3 separate regions of the Homo sapiens genome follow, and regions 2 and 3 are each linked to region 1. The links come from fine-mapping of genetic effects on gene expression. A gene starts in region 1. Each other region holds a variant in brackets. All regions are shown on one strand. Distances are from middle to middle.

Region 1 (5,000 bases):
ACACCTACCTAGATTTTAAAGATCATCATAGAGATACACAGGTGTCACATAGAATACTGAACTATTACAGCTTGAAAATAATAGGAAGTTCAGAAACTCTGTCAAGTCATACAGCTAGGTAGCGGTCAAGTTTGCACTATAGCCCAGCCCCACCTCCCTGGCACAGCCTGGCTCTACCATCCACACTCATTCCTCCCATCTACTAATCTCATTCATCAAAAGGTCCTTAAGTGCTAACAATATATTTAGCACAGTTCTAGAAGTTGGGGGAGAGGCTTGTCCTCAAAGAACAGATCCAGTTGGAGAAACTGGCTTTATATTAAACAAACAACACATTAGAACCACAGTCTAGGGTAGAATCAGAGGGTCCTCCCAGATGAAAATAAAACTCACTTTTCTTAACATTAGACTGCTGTAAAACCCAGTTAGTATGAATTTGGGAAAAAAAAAGAGATCAGATATAAAGGCAAAAATAGTTTAATATGGGCCCTTTCAGCATTTCAAGTTAGGGATGGCAGGGAAGGAAAGACGATGGAGTCTCTGTTCTGTTGCAATCATGGGTTGAAATAATGGCCGCTGTATGGTTCCCTATTGCAAATAAACTGGCTTTGTCCAATTCAACTTCTGGTTCACAAATAGTTACTTTCCTCTGGAGGGAAAAATAACCGGCTACAGTTGTTTCTTATTGGTTGCATGCTGACTAGTGGTTAGGCTATTAAAGGATTAACTGCTGATGACAATAATTTTCCTTTCATTTATTTCACAGTAGCAAGGTGTTTGTTTTTAACCTCTCCTAATTCATTAAACAAAGAGCATTTCAACAAGAATAGATATTTTCGAGGATCTCACCACAAACTAACCTACCCACTGCTTTTATTTTTCATGTTTTTTTTTTCTAGTTATGTCCCTCCATATGTATTTCTACCTAATTGCAATCATACTGTTGATACGATTTGGTGATGTGATTTTCTCTTTAGATTACACTGTCAACATTCTCCATGTTTCTGGAGACGTCGCACGATTATTTAATGGCCCCATAGTAACCTGCATGGAATAGTATTCTCTATTCCATGGTCCGAAGTTAGCCCCTTCCCTGTTCTTGGTCCTTAAAGGGTCTGTCACTCACCTCACCTATTTAGATGAAATTATCACAGAGACATAAAAAACATCCTTTGCAACATGAAATAAACAAGTAGCCCCAACTGCAATGTGTATCACCAGATAAAAAAGACGCACTCAGCCTGTAGAAGGCCAGGTGTGGACGGCTGGTGGGTAAGAATTCTTCCAATGGCAGGATGGAAGTATCACCAATAGTTTGTAACTAAGATACATACTGGCACTCACTTACATGATTAATAACCAGAAACTCAGAAATACTACACGCTACCAAGATACTTCCCTCGTCTCCTCTGTTTCCTTAGAACATAAAGGCTGGCAGCCTTGCTAGTCCCTCCTGCGCTAGACTGCAGGTAGTATCCTTTGTCCTGCCTATTAAGCGTCCCTGGCCAATGCAGAGGGGACGATCTGCCGGCTTCAGGCTGGCAGGTGCGGGGTGGGCTGTGTGCTGAGGACCAGGCTGGCCTTCTCGCGTCCTCTGGCGACAGAAATTAAGCAAGTCCGCAAAGAAGCATATTGCACCTTGAGGGAGAGGAAGAAAGAGTTGCGGGGGCGCGTGGGGTAGGGCCCGGGAGGCAGTGGGTGTTGGCAAGAAACGGAGTAGGAGGCTCTACAGAGGAGACTGGTCCTTGGTTAAGTGTCACAGCCGCAGGATGGGAGGGTGTGGGAGGGGTCCGTGGGGCCAACACAGGTGGCCCCTGCTGTGCGCGGCGAGGCAGGCTTGGAATGCCTTCTCCCCGAACAGAGCTAGCCCAGCACTGGGGGCTGGAGGCGCGGCTCTGGTGGGACTGAGGCCGGGAAGCGGCGCCGGGCGGGGTGGGGACTGGGGAGGAGGCGGGGCTGGTGTGGGGGCCACAGGGAGGCGGGCCGGGTTTAAGGGGGTGGCTGTAGGTGGGGTCTGGGAAGTTGGCCTCGGTGGGGACAGGGACAGGAGAGGTGGGGCCGGGACTGGGGAGGTGGGGGGAAATGGGGGCGTGGAGAAACGGAGCTTGGGGTTGGGGACCTGGGGAAGCTGGGTCCTGACTGGGGACAGGGAGGCGAGGCCGGGCTTGGGGGGTGTCCAGGGAGGCAGGGTGTGGGAAGGTCTGGGGCGGGGAAGTGGGGTCTGGGCTGGGGTGGGAGAGTTGGAGTCCAGAAGGGGACCGCGGGGTGGAAGGGGTCCGGGCTGGGACCGGGGTAGGCGGAGTCCAGGAGGGGACGCAGGGTGGGCGGGGTCCGGGCTGGGTCCGTGGGGTGGGCGGGGTCCGGGCTGGGACGCGGGGTGGGCGGGGTCCGGGCTGGGTCCGTGGGGTGGGCGGGGTCCGGGCTGGGTCCGTGGGGTGGGCGGAGTCCAGGAGGGGACCGCAGGGTGGGCGGGGTCCGGGCTGGGTCCGTGGGGTGGGCGGGGTCCGGGCTGGGTCCGTGGGGTGGGCGGGGTCCGGGCTGGGACCGCGGGGTGGGCGGGGTCCGGGCTGGGTCCGTGGGGTGGGCGGGGTCCGGGCTGGGACCGCGGGGTGGGCGGCCCCGAGAGCGTCCCGCAGTGGCTGGAGCCCTGGGCGCTGCAAAGCGTGTCCCGCCGGGTCCCCGAGCGTCCCGCGCCCTCGCCCCGCCATGCTCCTGCTGCTGGGGCTGTGCCTGGGGCTGTCCCTGTGTGTGGGGTCGCAGGAAGAGGCGCAGAGCTGGGGCCACTCTTCGGAGCAGGTAAGTGGAGCCGAGGGGAGCCGGGTCCCGGGCGCGGCCGCCCCCTTCCCTCCGCCGGCCCGGCCGCGGAGCTTCTGCCCGGGCCCCCTTCGACCGTCTCCCAGGCCCCCACCAGAGGCCCAGGGGTCCCTCTCTGTGGGTCACTCGTGCGTCACCTCTGTGTGAGCCGCGGTGCCTGATCTGGCCTGAGGCTTCCTGCAGAACTGTGCCCGGGACTTGTCCTGCGGAGCCGAGTTTTTCTTCTTGGCTCCTGTTGATTGCGCAGATTTCTGTTCGTCGTTGTTAATTTCTGAGGTAGCTCCAAAAGTTATTATAATTACAAGGTTTTTTCCTTATCACGCGTGGGGGGCAGTCTGCTGTTATCATCATTCCCAGTTGATCCAGGGAGAAAGGCAATATGAGAGGAGTTCTAGACTCCTGGGAGCCTCAGCTTTTCCCACCTGAAAACCGGGAGAACACGACTTTCCCATTTAGCGACTACCTACCGGTGGTTTAGCATTTAAAGGTGGCACCGAGAGCCAAAGCGTCTGAGTTCCTCGAGTTGCTGGTCTGTGCGTTTGTCAGGATTTGTGTTTCAAATGTCTTAACCTCGCAGGCGAATAAAACCTGCAAATATGAAATGTCAATAAAATGATGAATAGAGCATTTTTGTCTTTAAAAAGTATGAAGCGGGTTCACACAAATAGCATTGAGAGCTAATGTGCAACATGGCCCTGTCACAAAGTAGAAGTGCTTTCACACACATGCCATTTAAATATTTAAGCCGTTTAGCTTCCAGCGTGTTTGTGCACGGTGGGAGGAAGATACAAGTAGGCGGACCTTTTCTCCCTTTTCCAGCCCCTGTTTTGAAGAGCAGTTTTGAAGCCCAACTGCCTAAATATGAAGACAGTTATCTTCATGTTCTCTGTCCTGTGAATGTGCTTAACAGTAAAGTGGTAGTAATGATACTTCCTTCTAGGGGGGGAGTAGCTAATAAAATCCCAGGAGGCATCGTAGTGATGTTGGAAAAGTGCAGGCTTTGGATGCAGAGACAGGCTGGGCTTTAGTTGTGTGTTCCGGGCAAGCCCTTTAATCTCTCAGAGCCTTCATGTCCTCGTTGGTCAGGGCAGGGAATGCGGCTCTTTTTGAGCAAACTTGCAAGGACTCAGCTAATTTGTGTTAAGCACCTGGTATACAGTGGACGCTCAATAACTGGGAGATGTTTTAGTAGATGGCTGAAGGCATGGGCTTGGTACCAGGATGTCTGGGACCACTTGATTCTTGATTCTGTCACTTATCAGCTCTGGGACCCTGATCAAGTGCCTTTCGGCCTTATATTCCTCTTCTGTGAAATGTGGAGAAATGATAGGGTTGTGAGGACTGAATGCATTATGACACCCAAGTGCTTAAAACACTGTCAGCACTTAATGCTGGCCATGGTCTTAGACTCATGCTGCTGACATGCTGAGTGAAGGAATTTAGGGTAAAGATCTTGAAACTTTTTTGGGGGTGTGGAGACAGGACAGTGTGGGATGGACTGAAACAAAGATTCTGTGTCTGAACTAGGAAGGCTGTTTAAACTCTAGCATATACCAAGTTCAAGTAGGCTTCACAGTCTATGGACTTGCTGTCATAAAAAAACATGGCTTGACCTCTTTTAGTGATTTCATGCTGTCTTCAACCCAGCACAATATTTATTTATCTTGAAAATGACTAAATCAGGAAAAAAAATCCAAGGTATAAAGTTCTATGAACTTGCAATTTTACCTTTTATCCCTAATCCGTTCTTTTTTATATTTAGTTTTTGTGATATAGGGTTTGAGAGCATAGGCTTTAGCACCAGAATTCTGGGTTCAAATCTTGGCTCTGCACTTACTGAGGAGTTACTTAACGTTTGTGAGCCTCTATCTCTGTATGGGGATGATGCAATTACTTAGGATTTTGAAAAGTGAAACAATTAATATACTTAAATCTTAGAACAGAACCTGGGAATGTAATGAGCACTCTATTCTCAATCATTATGGTCTTTAAAATTGTATGTAAACTTAATTTGAAAAATGTAAGTCTATGCAAATCTTATGCAAATTTTAATATAGCTGAATATGACTATTAACTTGCATTGCAGTTATTTGTCATTCACCTGTAATTGGAAATATACCAGTAACACCTTAGATTCAAGTTCCTTCACCTCTCACCCTTCACCCCATCTGTAGACAGTGGGTACT
Region 2 (5,000 bases), 86 kb after region 1:
CGCCTGTAGTCCCAGCTACTGGGGAGGCTGAGGCAGGAGAATTGCATGAACCTGGGAGGCGGAGGTTGTAGTGAGCCGAGATCGCACCACTGCACTCCAGCCCCGGTGACAGAGTGAAATTCTGTTTCAAAAACAAACAAACAAAAGAAAGGCAAATTAGTGATTCCAATAAAATGTAAAATAACTTTCTTTCCATTTGGGCTCTGCATCTTAGCAAGAATTATGAACATTTGGTCATGGACATAGCCTTATCTACTTTTTTAGCTAGAAAATCTGGAGGATGTTAAGCCGTGGGGGAGATGATCTGGTTCTCTCAGATGCGGTACATTTTAATTTTAATTTTTAATTTTTGTGGGTCCAGAGTAGGTATATGTGTTTATGGGGTATATGAGGTATTTTGATACAGGCATACATTGTGTGATAATTACATCAGATAAATGAGATATCCATCACCTCAAGCATTTGTCCTTTGTTACAAACAATCCAATTATACTCAGTTATTTTTAAGTGTATCATGAAATTATTATTGAATATAATCACCCTGTTGCACTACCAAGTACTAGATCGTCTTCATTCTTTCTAACTTCTTTTTGTACCCATTAACTATCCCTACTTCTGCCCCACCCCCCACTACCCTGCCCAGCCTCTGGAAACCATCCTTCTACTCTTTATCTCCATAAGTTCAATCGTTTTAATTTTTAGCTGCCACAAATAAGCGAGAACATGGGAAGATGGTCTTTCTGTGCCTGGCTTAATTCACTGAATATAATGAGCTCCAGTTCCATCCATCTTGTTGCAGATGACAAGATCTCATTCTTTTTTGTGGCTGAATAGTGCCCCATGGTATATATGTACCACAAATGTGGTAAAATTTGCAGGTAGAGAAAAGTCACTCCAGTCAGGATGATGGATGGTGGTGATGGTCATCAAACTCTAAATTTACTACAAATCATGAATTGGACACTTAGAATGGGTGATCTTTTGGTATGTAGATTTTATCTTAAGCCATTTTAAAAAAAAAACAAAGGAAATAGGTGTTCACACTACAGTAAGGTCTCTGCTTTACTTGGTAATGGTGGGATGTTGGTAGCTTAGTCCAGTGGAATTCTTAGCTAACCCAGAAACCTCACTGTAGCTGGGGTTTCAACCTCAACCACCCAACCACCTGTCTCCCCATCCACCAAACAAATACTTGTTCAGCTCCTATCAAAGACACAGGCCCCAACTTTATTTATTTATTTTGCTCCCAAACTTAAATTGTCTGATTTATTTTAATCATAAAGTAGTAAATTTAAGAATACATGGGGCCAGGTGCTGTGGCCCCTGCCAGTAATCCCAGCACTTTGGAGGCCGAGGCGGGCAGATCACAAGGTCAGGAAATCAAGACCAGCCTGGCCAACATGGTGAAACCCGTCTCTACTAAAAAAGTACAAAAATTAGCCAGGCATGGTGGCGTGTGCCTGTAATCCCAGCTACTCGGGAGGCTGAGGCAGGAGAATTGCTTGAACACAGGAGGCAGAGGTTGCAGTGAGCCAAGATCACGCCACTGCATTCCACCTTGGGCGAAAGAGCATGACTATATCTCAAAAAAAAAAAAAAAAAAAAAAATACATGGGTGGCCGGGCATGGTGGCTCATGCCTGTAGTCCCAGCACTTTGGGAGGTTGAGGTGGGAGAACTGCTTGAGCCCAGGAGTTCGAGACCAGCCTGGGCAACATAGTGAGACCCTGTCTCTAAAAAAAAAAAAAAAAAAAAAAAGAAGGAAAAGAAAAGAAAACATGGGAACATTCTTTTTAAAGGAAGCAGTAACCTGTAGTGTAACATACATGCAGAAAAATGTACATGTAGTAAGTGTACAACTTGATATGTTTTCATAAACTGAACAGAACCTGGACCCAGATCAAGAAACAGAACATTTAGAACTCCAGAAGCCTGCTCATGTTCTCACACCATTTTTTCCATGGAAGTATCTATTCTAAAACATTTGAGGAATAAAGAAAATCATCAAAAGAAAAAAAGGAGAGAAAAACCTCCTGCTGTCCACAGATGCCTGCTAATGTCATTGGTGTTTATTGTTCCATCATTTCTCAGAGTTGAGATTTGTTTTCTGTTTCGTATGGTTTTTCTAAGCCACATATTCCTGATAAAATTTTTCTTCCCTTTCGCCCCCAACTTTATTTTATTTATTCATTTATTTATTTTATTTTTATTTTTTCTGTTGAGACCGCGTCTCACTCTGTTTCCCAGGCTGGAGTGCAATGGCACGATCTTGGCTCACTGCAACTTCCGTCTTCTGGGTTCAAGTGATTTTCTGACCTTAGCCATCCGAGTAGCTGGGATTACAGGCATGTACCACCATGCCCGGCTAATTTTTGTATTTTTGGTAGAGACAGGGTTTTGCCATGTTAGCGAGGCTGGTCTCGAACTCCTGACCTCAGGTGATCCACCCACCTTGGCCTCCCAGAGTGCTGGGATTACAGGCATGAGCCACCGTGCCTGGCTGGCCTCCAACTTTAATCAGAGCTGTTGCTGACAAGGGCCTCTGAAGGAAAAAGGGTGGCCAGGAGGAGAAATATTTCATGGCTCCTTTCTCTGTGGGGTTCTGGCAAGCAGAGGTGATCTGAAGGGACAGGAAGCAAAGAAAGGAGAGACGATGAAGGCAACAAATTCATTCTTTCATCAGCTCCACCTAGCCCTAGACAACACTGGAAGGCATCTGAGATGTCAGCAGCTACCCTCCTCCTCTTCGTTCCATGCCCCTCCTCCCCTCTGCGGCTCTTTCTCCCTCCACATTCCTGCTGTCTTCTATGCTCAACACCTTCCTGCTCTTTTCAAAGCCATTCTCAGAAGAGGGCACAGAAGCCATTGAAGCTCAGGTAAGCTAAGGCGTCGCCACATGCCTTCTGGAGAAGGTTT[G/T]TTACAGTGGGATAATCCCCATTCACTTATATGCATTTAGTAAATGCACTTGCTTTTAGCAAGTTTCTGGATGGCCCCTTAACACCTCACTCCTGTGAGCATTTGGGTGGTTGAGCGTGAACTGCAGCTATGAAAGTGCATTCAGGCTGGGCATGGTGGCTCATGCCTGTGATTCCAGCACTTTGGGAGGCCAAGGTGGGCGGATTACTTGAGGTCAGGAGTTTGAGACCAGCCTGGCCAACATGGTCAATCCCATCTCTACTAAAAATACAAAAATTAGCCAGATGTGGTGGTGTGCACCTGTAATCCCAGCTACTCGGGAGGCTGAGGCGGGAGAATCGCTTGAACCTGGGAGGCGGAGGTTGCAGTGAGTGCAGATTGCGCCATTGCACTCCAGCCTGGGTGACAGAGCAAGACTCCGTCTCAAAAAAAAGAAAGTGCAATCAGAGTGCGGAGGTGAGTGCAGAGGCTTGAGCTGTTCCGTGTTGGTGTCCTGCAGGCACAGACATCAACGGGGCCCTGCAGAGGGCCATCAGGCTCCTCAACAAGTACGTGGCCCACAGTGGCATTGGAGACCGGAGCGTGTCCCTCATCGTCTTCCTGACGGATGGGAAGCCCACGGTCGGGGAGACGCACACCCTCAAGATCCTCAACAACACCCGAGAGGCCGCCCGAGGCCAAGTCTGCATCTTCACCATTGGCATCGGCAACGACGTGGACTTCAGGCTGCTGGAGAAACTGTCGCTGGAGAACTGTGGCCTCACACGGCGCGTGCACGAGGAGGAGGACGCAGGCTCGCAGCTCATCGGGTCTGTGGTCTGTCTTCGTAGGCATGAGAGGCTGTTTGAGGGGCTGAGGGGTGGCTGCGGTGGGAATTCAGAGAGGAGTGTGTTGCTGCACCCCAGCCTTGCATCTGCTGACAACGATCATAGCTCATTGCAATGGGAGGTGTCACCATGTGTTTTGAAACTAGGCAGATCAGAGTTCGAATTCTGATCCTCCTTTATGACTTTAGGCAAGATTTTTTTTTTTTTTCTTGTGATGGAGTTTCGCTCTTGTTGCCCAGGCTGCAATGCAATGGCGTGATCTCAGCTCACTGCAACCTCTGCTTCCTGGGTTCAAGCAATTCTCTTGCCTCAGCCTCCTGAGTAGCTGGGACTACAGTCACACACCACCACGCCTGGCTAATTTTGTATTTTTAGTAGAGACAAGGTTTCTCCATGTTGGTCAGGCTGGTCTCGAACTCCTGACCTCAGGTGATCTGCCCGCCTTGGCCTCCCAAAGTACTGGGATTATGGGCGTGAGCCACCACACCCGGCCCTAAGCAAGATTTTAAGACAGTCTGTACCTCCGTTTTCTCATCTGTAAAATGAGGATTATGGTTGGTTGCAGAATTTAATGAGAAAATCGCTATATAAAAACACTATGTATAGCACTGGCACAGTGGCCATCCCATATTAAGTATTTAATGAGCTCTCATAGTTCATTGACATCCTGATATTTCAAAGCACTTTCTAGTAAGTTTACTTTTATTCTACCCTGTGAGCAAGTAGCAGAGTACTGTTATGTTCATTTTGAGTACTAGTTAAAAGATACTTTTATTTGGAAGCAAAACCATCAGATAAAACTGTTAAATAATCAGATTATTTTGAGGTGGAGAATAAATGAGATCTTTTAAATGAGAGATGGAGAAAACTCAGATCTTTTAAAACAGAAATAGCTTCCCTCCGATATTATGTTGCCACGCATCAGTCTGCTCCTTTGCTGTTCATTGAGTGAAGTGCCAGCTCCCAGTTCAGCGTGAGGTGCTTTAATCTGCATCGTGGCATATGTGGTATCTACTTAAAAGCAAAGGGGAGGTTTGGGTAGATTTATAGGTGTTTAATAGCCATAGTCAAAGCACATTTATTAATGATAAATGGAAATGGAGACACCTAAGGTGTGCAGTAAAGACAGGTCCTCGGTTTGGGATTCGCCACCGTTTCCTCCCACGCATTTTAATGAAAGATTTAAATGAAAACACAGATTTGCTTTCCACATTTTAAAAATTATTCAAAACTAGAGTCAAAGGGGAGAATCTGATAC
Region 3 (6,710 bases), 95 kb after region 1:
CCTACTCTGCACCCCACCAATGCTGTCCCATTTATTCCTCACACTCTAAAGTCTTAGAAGGACCTGGGTGTGGAGAAAGCATGCAGTTAGGATTCACCAACCCTCCTGACCAGCTGTGAGGCCTGAGGCAGGTTTCTCAACCTCTCTGAGCTTCCATTCCCACTCCCCAGCCCTGAACACGGAGATAATCATAATTTCCCTGCAGGGCTGTTGTAAGAACTAAATATGGAATGCCGTGGGCACACAGTGAGTTTTGCACAAATGTCAGACACGCCTTCCGTGGAGGCACGGAATACCAGAAATGTATTGAAAAGTTCGGACCCTGATAGCGAGGTTGCAATTGACATGGCTATTTCAGAAAGCGTGGAGCTTGTCTTGGCAAAACGTACACAATTTTTGTTGTGATTAAAAGCATGTGGCAGGATGCTATCACTTTCTACCTATGAGATCCATGCCACATCCAGGAAAAGTGGCTTTCTGAATAAGATCTTGATGCTAGGTCATCAGCGCAAATCTCCACAGCTTCAGGAGAGATCGGATCTGGACCATACAAGACTCGGGGGGCCAGAAAGACAGAGGAGGAGATAACCAACTGACTACTCGAAAGGGTTTTTTTTTGCTTTTTTTTTTTTTTTTTTTCCGAGATGGAGTCTCGCTCTTTCGCCCAAGCTGGAGTGCAGTGGTGCTATCTCGGCTCACTGCAAGCTCTGCCTCCCAGGTTCACGCTATTCTCCTGCCTCAGCCTCCCAAGTAGCTGGGACTACGGGTGCCCACCACCGCGCCCGGCTAATTTTTTGTATTTTTAGTAGAGATGGGGTTTCACCGTGTTAGCCAGGATGGTCTCAATCTCCTGACCTTGTGATCCGCCCACCTGGGCCTCCCAAAATGCTGGGATTACAGGCATGAGCCACTGCGCCCGGCCGGTTTTTTGTTTTTTGTTTTTTAAATGAAGATTCTTCCTTTCCTTAAAGCTCTGATGGTTTTTAAATTTAAATTTTAATTTTTTTGAGAGTTGGTGGCAGCTGCCACTCCTCAAATCAGTCATCCAGTCATCCATCCTCTTTCCTGGCTAATCTACATTCTGCCCAGATCACGCTGGTCAAGACCAGTATTGAGAAGGGAGTACTTCAAGAACCTTTAGATATCTCACTCTTTAATTTCTGTGAGCAATAAAAACCAGAGAAGAGGAGCACAATTTTACCTAGTACTAACAATTTGACGTAAGATATTGATTTTATTTATAGATATTAATTACTTTTAGGTTATTCTTTCATTGAATATTTATTCAAAGCACCAGTACTTTGAAATACAAAGTGTTTCAAAATCTTCTGCTTTGTAAATTCCGCCGCACACATAGCTACAGACACTGGATTATAACTGTACCTCTTTTATTACATTATTGTTTGTTTTTGTTTTTGTTGTGAACATAAAATTTACCACCTTACCCATTTTTAAGCGTACAGTTCAATGCTGGTAAGCGATGTTAGGTATATTCACACTGTTGTGAAACAGATCTCTAGAACTTTTCCATCTTGCACGTCTGAAATGCTACAGGCCCACTGAACAACAGCTCATTTCTCCCTTCCCCTATAAATACATCTCAAGTGTGATAAAATATTTTCCCCTATAATATACACAAAAATCACAGAAAAGAATAGTATCTAAATCATACAATAATTAAATAATTAATCCTACACACTTTACATTCCACTTGTGTAGTTTCTATTCTATTCTTTTTTTTCCTTTTTTTTTTTTTTTTTGAGACAGTCTCACTCTGTTAACCAGGCTGGAGTGCAGTGGTGCAGTCACAGCTCACTGCAGCCTTGATCTCCTGGGCTCAAGTGATCCTCCCACCTCAGCCTCCCAAGTAGCTGGGACTACAGATGTGTGCCACCTTGTTGGGTTAATTTTATTTATTTATTTTTTTTTTGTAGAGACAGGGTCTCACTATATTGCCCAGGCCGGTCTCGAACTCCTGGGCTCCAGTGATCCTCCCACCTTGGC[C/T]TCCGGAAGCACTGGGATTATGGACATGAGCCACCATGCCTGGCTCTGCTTGTGTGTTTTGAGGCCAAGCTCCCTTTTTAAGACTGATGATGTTTTAAAGGTCTTTTGATTATTTAAGCTGTTACAAACGTACCTAAAAGCTGTGTTTTGCTCATGTCTCCTCTCTCCCTTTGCACCTCTCTCTTCATCTTCTTTAAGGAATGACCATGATGTTCTCTTCCTTCTCCCTTTTAGGACCTTTGCTCAAGAAGCCATACCAGCCAAGAATTAAAATCTCTAAAACATCAGGTAAAGCAAAGGATGCGGTTGTGTGTGGATTGAGAGTAAGAGATGTTTAAAAAGTGTAAAACCAGGCCAGGTGTACTGGCTCACGCCTGTAATCCCAGCACTTTGGGAGGCCGAGGTGGGTGTATTGCTTGAGGTCAGGAGTTCAAGACCAGCCTGGCCAACATGGTGAAACCTCGTCTCTACTAAAAATACAAAAATTAGCCAGGCATGGTGGCAGGGGCCTGTAGTTCCAGCTACTGGGGAGGCTGAGGCAGGAGAATCACTTGAACCTGGGAAGTTGAGGTTACAGTGAGCCGAGATTGTGCCACCACACTCTAGCCTGGACTACAAGAGTGAAACTCTGTCTCAAAAAAAAAAAAAAAAAAAAAAAGTGTAAAACCAAGAATTCCTTGAAGCCAGTTAAAAATACCAGCTCATTCAGCAATGTATCAAGCCCACAGTGTGAGGCAGAGCCTGAGAAGTGCAGCTGTTATGAAACCATCCCATAAACACCATGGAGATAGCACAGTCCCCAGGAAGCCTGGCAGGAAACCCGATGAGGCTGCAGTGAGCTATATTGCACCACCCAATAGATGGGTGGCAGAGGCACATTCTGACCCTCATTGAGTTTAGAAGACATTTGTTTTAGAGATCCGGAGCATGCATCCTTCCAGCCTCTGCTATCATAAACATAAAATGGTGCTACCAAAATAAAAATGTCTGGTGTGACAGGCAGGCTTTGTTTTTGTTTTCATTTTTTTCAGTTCGTGGCTTCAGAAGGGAAGAACAGATTTTTTCAAATGTCATGAAATTTCCTTTTGCCAGCATCCTGGAACTATAATAAAAATTCAGAGGAAAGAACAACCTATGACTGGGTTTTGTTCTGCTGTGTCCAGATCATCCTCTGGAAGTCTTGATTGTTGCCTTTCTGCTGCTGTGCTGTACGTGCAAGTTCCTAAAGCCAGGGACATCCCGGAGATGAGCTGTGGATATAGAGTCCGCACAGCCTGCGGGAGACAGAATGTAATTCCTTCCAACACACACACACAGGCTTTATGGAATGCCAGAAAAGCTTCCTCTTGGATGCTGCCTGGAGTAATGACTTTTTGACCCTCCCCTCTTTTTTGGAGCAAGCACTATCTTTCCTTGTAAAGAAATTTGGACAATTTGAGTAGAAATGGTGTGGTATGTGCACATAGAAACTCTCAGAAAACTGTCAGATGAGCTAGACAGTTGTCCTCTATCTCCATGGGTCCCGCATCCCAAGGATCGAACCAACAACAGATCAAAAATACGTGAAAAAGGAATTGCATCTGTATTGAATGTGTACGGACTTTTTTTCTTGTCTTTGTTCCTTAAACAATGTAGTGTAACAACTATTTACATCGCATCTCCTTTGCATTCATTATTATAAGTAAACTAGAGATGATTTAAAGTGTATAGAAAGGCTGCGTGCAGTGGCTAATGTCTGTAATCCCAGCACTTTGAGAGGCCGAGGCAGGTGGATCACCTGAGGTCAGGAGTTCGAGACCAGCCTGGCCAACGTGGTGAAACCCCATCTCTACTAAAAATACAATAATTAGCTGGGCATGGTGGTGCACGCCTGTAATCCCAGCTATTCGGGAGGCTGAGGCAGGAGAATCGCTTGAACCCAGGAGGCAGAGATTGCAGTGAACCGAGATTGCACCATTGCACTCCAGCCTGGGTGACAGAGTGAACCTCCGTCTCAAAAACAAAATAAATAAATAAGAATAAATTAAAAATAAAGTGTATGGAAGGCTGTGCGAAGGTTGTATACAGATACTACACTATTGTATGTCATGGACTTGAGGACGCGTGGATTTTAGTATCCGCGGGGGTCCTGGAACTAATCCCCCATGGACACCAAGAGACAACTGCGTGCATGCCTGAAAAATGCCAGCAATGTGGATGAGAACTTTGATCTCCTCTGGGGGTCAGTTTTTCCCCATCAGCAAAAGACCAGCACCTTGAATTTCTTCATATGTTGCAATTTTCAGGGAAGTTGAGGCACTTCCCAGGGAGAGCAGCCAGATCCTCTCAAGGGCCCGTGTCAGGGATGCTGGGGCAGAAAGGGTTTCTCAGCAGTCAATGCAGGGATGTTAGTTTGCTGCAGCTTAAAAAGAGTGGACTCTGCCTGGCCCCTGCCTACACCGTGCACAGCGTGCATGCAGACATGTCCATGTGCACAGAAGGCAGAGGGGCATTTGAGAAACAAGTTGTAGGCCGGTGTGGTGGCTCACGCCTGAAATCCCAGCACTTTGGGAGGCTGAGGTGGGTGGAATGCTTGAGCCCAGGAGTTTGAGACCAGCCTGGGCAACATAGTGAGACCCTGTCCCTACAAAAAATAAAAAATTAGCCTGGCATGGTGGCACGTGCCTGTAGTCCCAGCTACTCAGGAGGCTGAGGTGGGAGGACCGTTTGAGCCCAGGAGTTTGAGGCTGCAGTGAGCTCTGATTGCACCACTGTACTCCAGCCTGGTCAACAGAGTGGGACCCTGTCTCAAAAATAAATAAAATAAACAAATTGCACTTGGAATATAAATTAGAGAGAAGGTAAATCTCCAATCTGGTAAGAGAATTGATATAGATTCTCAAGAAATCTTCTGTCTGTATAATAAAAGGCAAGGCTGTTCACCTTTAACAGAGGTGAAAATGAGGAGAACAGATAAGAACTGTCAGCTGAACTTTGCGGTCTCATCTGTGGACAGAAATTTCAGAGCAGTGAAGTCGGAGTGACCCAAAGGAGGGGTTTCCGCCAGCACCCTGACTGTGCGCCTGGCCGCCTACTCGCATTTTGCTTCCCTTGCCTCTGCATCTAAGCTGGGCATGGCTCTCAGTGCCTGCGTGCAGGGGTGGCGTACAGCTGACGCTGCGAATGAGCCTGGGGTAGCCCATGGCTTCCTGGGAGAAGAAGCACCATAGATCTCCCATCATAGGGAGGAAAGTCCTCTGCATCTGTGCCATTAAAGGAGAAAGCAAATAGCAAGGGATGTCCCCCTGGGAAATGGAAGCATGGGGGCTGAGTACCAGTTGAAGGTGTGTGGGGATCTCTCTTTCCTTCTCCTCTCACCTCTCAAAGCTTAGTTGTCTAGACTGAGCTGAGGTGTGTTGAAAGGAGCATTATATTGGAATTTAGAAGACCTGAAGTCAAATGTTTACTGCAAACTCACTGGGTAATTCTGGGGAGTTGTTTCCCTCCCACTCATCTTCCTCATCTGGAAATTGAGGACACCTCCTTCCAGAATAGTTTTCAGGATTCAATAAAATAATTCATGAGAAAATAGAGAGTAGCACCTACACAAGGAAGGTACTGAATAAGTGTCTTTCTTTTTCTCTCCGTTTTCTTCTGCTCTGGCAGTGGATGGTGATCCCCACTTTGTTGTGGATTTCCCCCTGAGCAGACTCACCGTGTGCTTCAACATTGATGGGCAGCCCGGGGACATCCTCAGGCTGGTCTCTGATCACAGGGACTCTGGTAAGTTCTACCTTCCGCTGCAGCATCTGGGCAAGGACCAGGTAGGTACTGCATCCCCCTCTGTTCTTCAGATGGATGTCCAGTGATCCAAGGGCCACCTTACAGACGCTCAGTGAGTATCGTCAGTGGTTAAGGGAAGCGCACTGCGCTCCTGGACTTATGCATCCGACTCCCTGCTTTATGACAAGTGCCGTGTGACCTTGGGCACATGCCTTGGGAGTTGTTTCCCTTGTAAAATGGAGATAGGAACACTCTCTTGGCCTCACAGAGCTAATATAAAATGGATCAAATGAAACTGGTTATGAAGTTGTTTTTTAAATGCTGAAGTGCTTTAGAAATCCGCTATGTAGGCTGGGCGCGGTGGCTCATGCCTGTAATCCCAGCACTTTGGGAGGCCGAGGCAGGTGGATCACCGGAGGTCAGGAGTTCAAGACCAGCTTGGCCAACATGGTGAAACCCCATCTCTACTAAAGTTACAAAAAAATTAGCCCGGCATAGTGGTGGGCACCTGAAATCCCAGCTACTCGGGAGGCTGAGGCAGGAGAATCGCTTGAACCTGGGAGGCAGAGGTTGCAGTGAGCTGAGATCATGCCACTGCACTCCAGCCTGGGTGAAAAGAGCAAGACTCTATCTCAAAAAAAAAAAAAAAAAAAAAAAGAAAAAGAAAAAAAGAAAAGAAAACCACAATATATTATTGTGTATTATTGTCATAGTGTCTATCCATTCAAAAGCTGTGATGCCGGGGAGGCCAAGGTTCTAAACTCATGTCAGTTTCTTGATGACTTACATGGGATGTCACATGTTAATCCACAGTTCTGTCTGTGTGCCGTGAACATGTATGGACAAAGGGGCTCTGTGGCCCCTGTTGGTCTGTAGAGGGCTTGGGTGAAAGAGATTAGCACAGAGAAAGCTTTTCAAGTTCGATGCAGGTAACAAACCATGTC

The links. PIP is the estimated chance that this variant, and not a neighbour inherited with it, causes the effect.
Region 2: its variant is the best candidate, but not a certain one, in a credible set for the expression of ITIH5 in tibial nerve (GTEx, PIP 0.57).
Region 3: its variant is the best candidate, but not a certain one, in a credible set for the expression of ITIH5 in lung (TOPMed, PIP 0.58).

What each region holds. Positions count from the first base shown.
Region 1 is chr10:7,664,599-7,669,598 of GRCh38, reverse strand. It overlaps ITIH5 (inter-alpha-trypsin inhibitor heavy chain 5), which reads left to right and starts at 2,633. Exons shown (of 14, transcript NM_030569.7): 1 at 2,633-2,796. The coding sequence starts at 2,707.
Region 2 is chr10:7,578,479-7,583,478 of GRCh38, reverse strand. ITIH5 (inter-alpha-trypsin inhibitor heavy chain 5) reads left to right here. Exons shown (of 14, transcript NM_030569.7): 9 at 3,415-3,724. Among named protein-coding and RNA genes, the nearest start is that of ITIH5, 86 kb to the left of the region's middle. The variant G/T (reference allele first, on the strand shown) is at 2,916.
Region 3 is chr10:7,568,724-7,575,433 of GRCh38, reverse strand. ITIH5 (inter-alpha-trypsin inhibitor heavy chain 5) reads left to right here. Exons shown (of 14, transcript NM_030569.7): 11 at 2,239-2,292; 12 at 5,650-5,766. Among named protein-coding and RNA genes, the nearest start is that of ITIH5, 95 kb to the left of the region's middle. The variant C/T (reference allele first, on the strand shown) is at 2,005.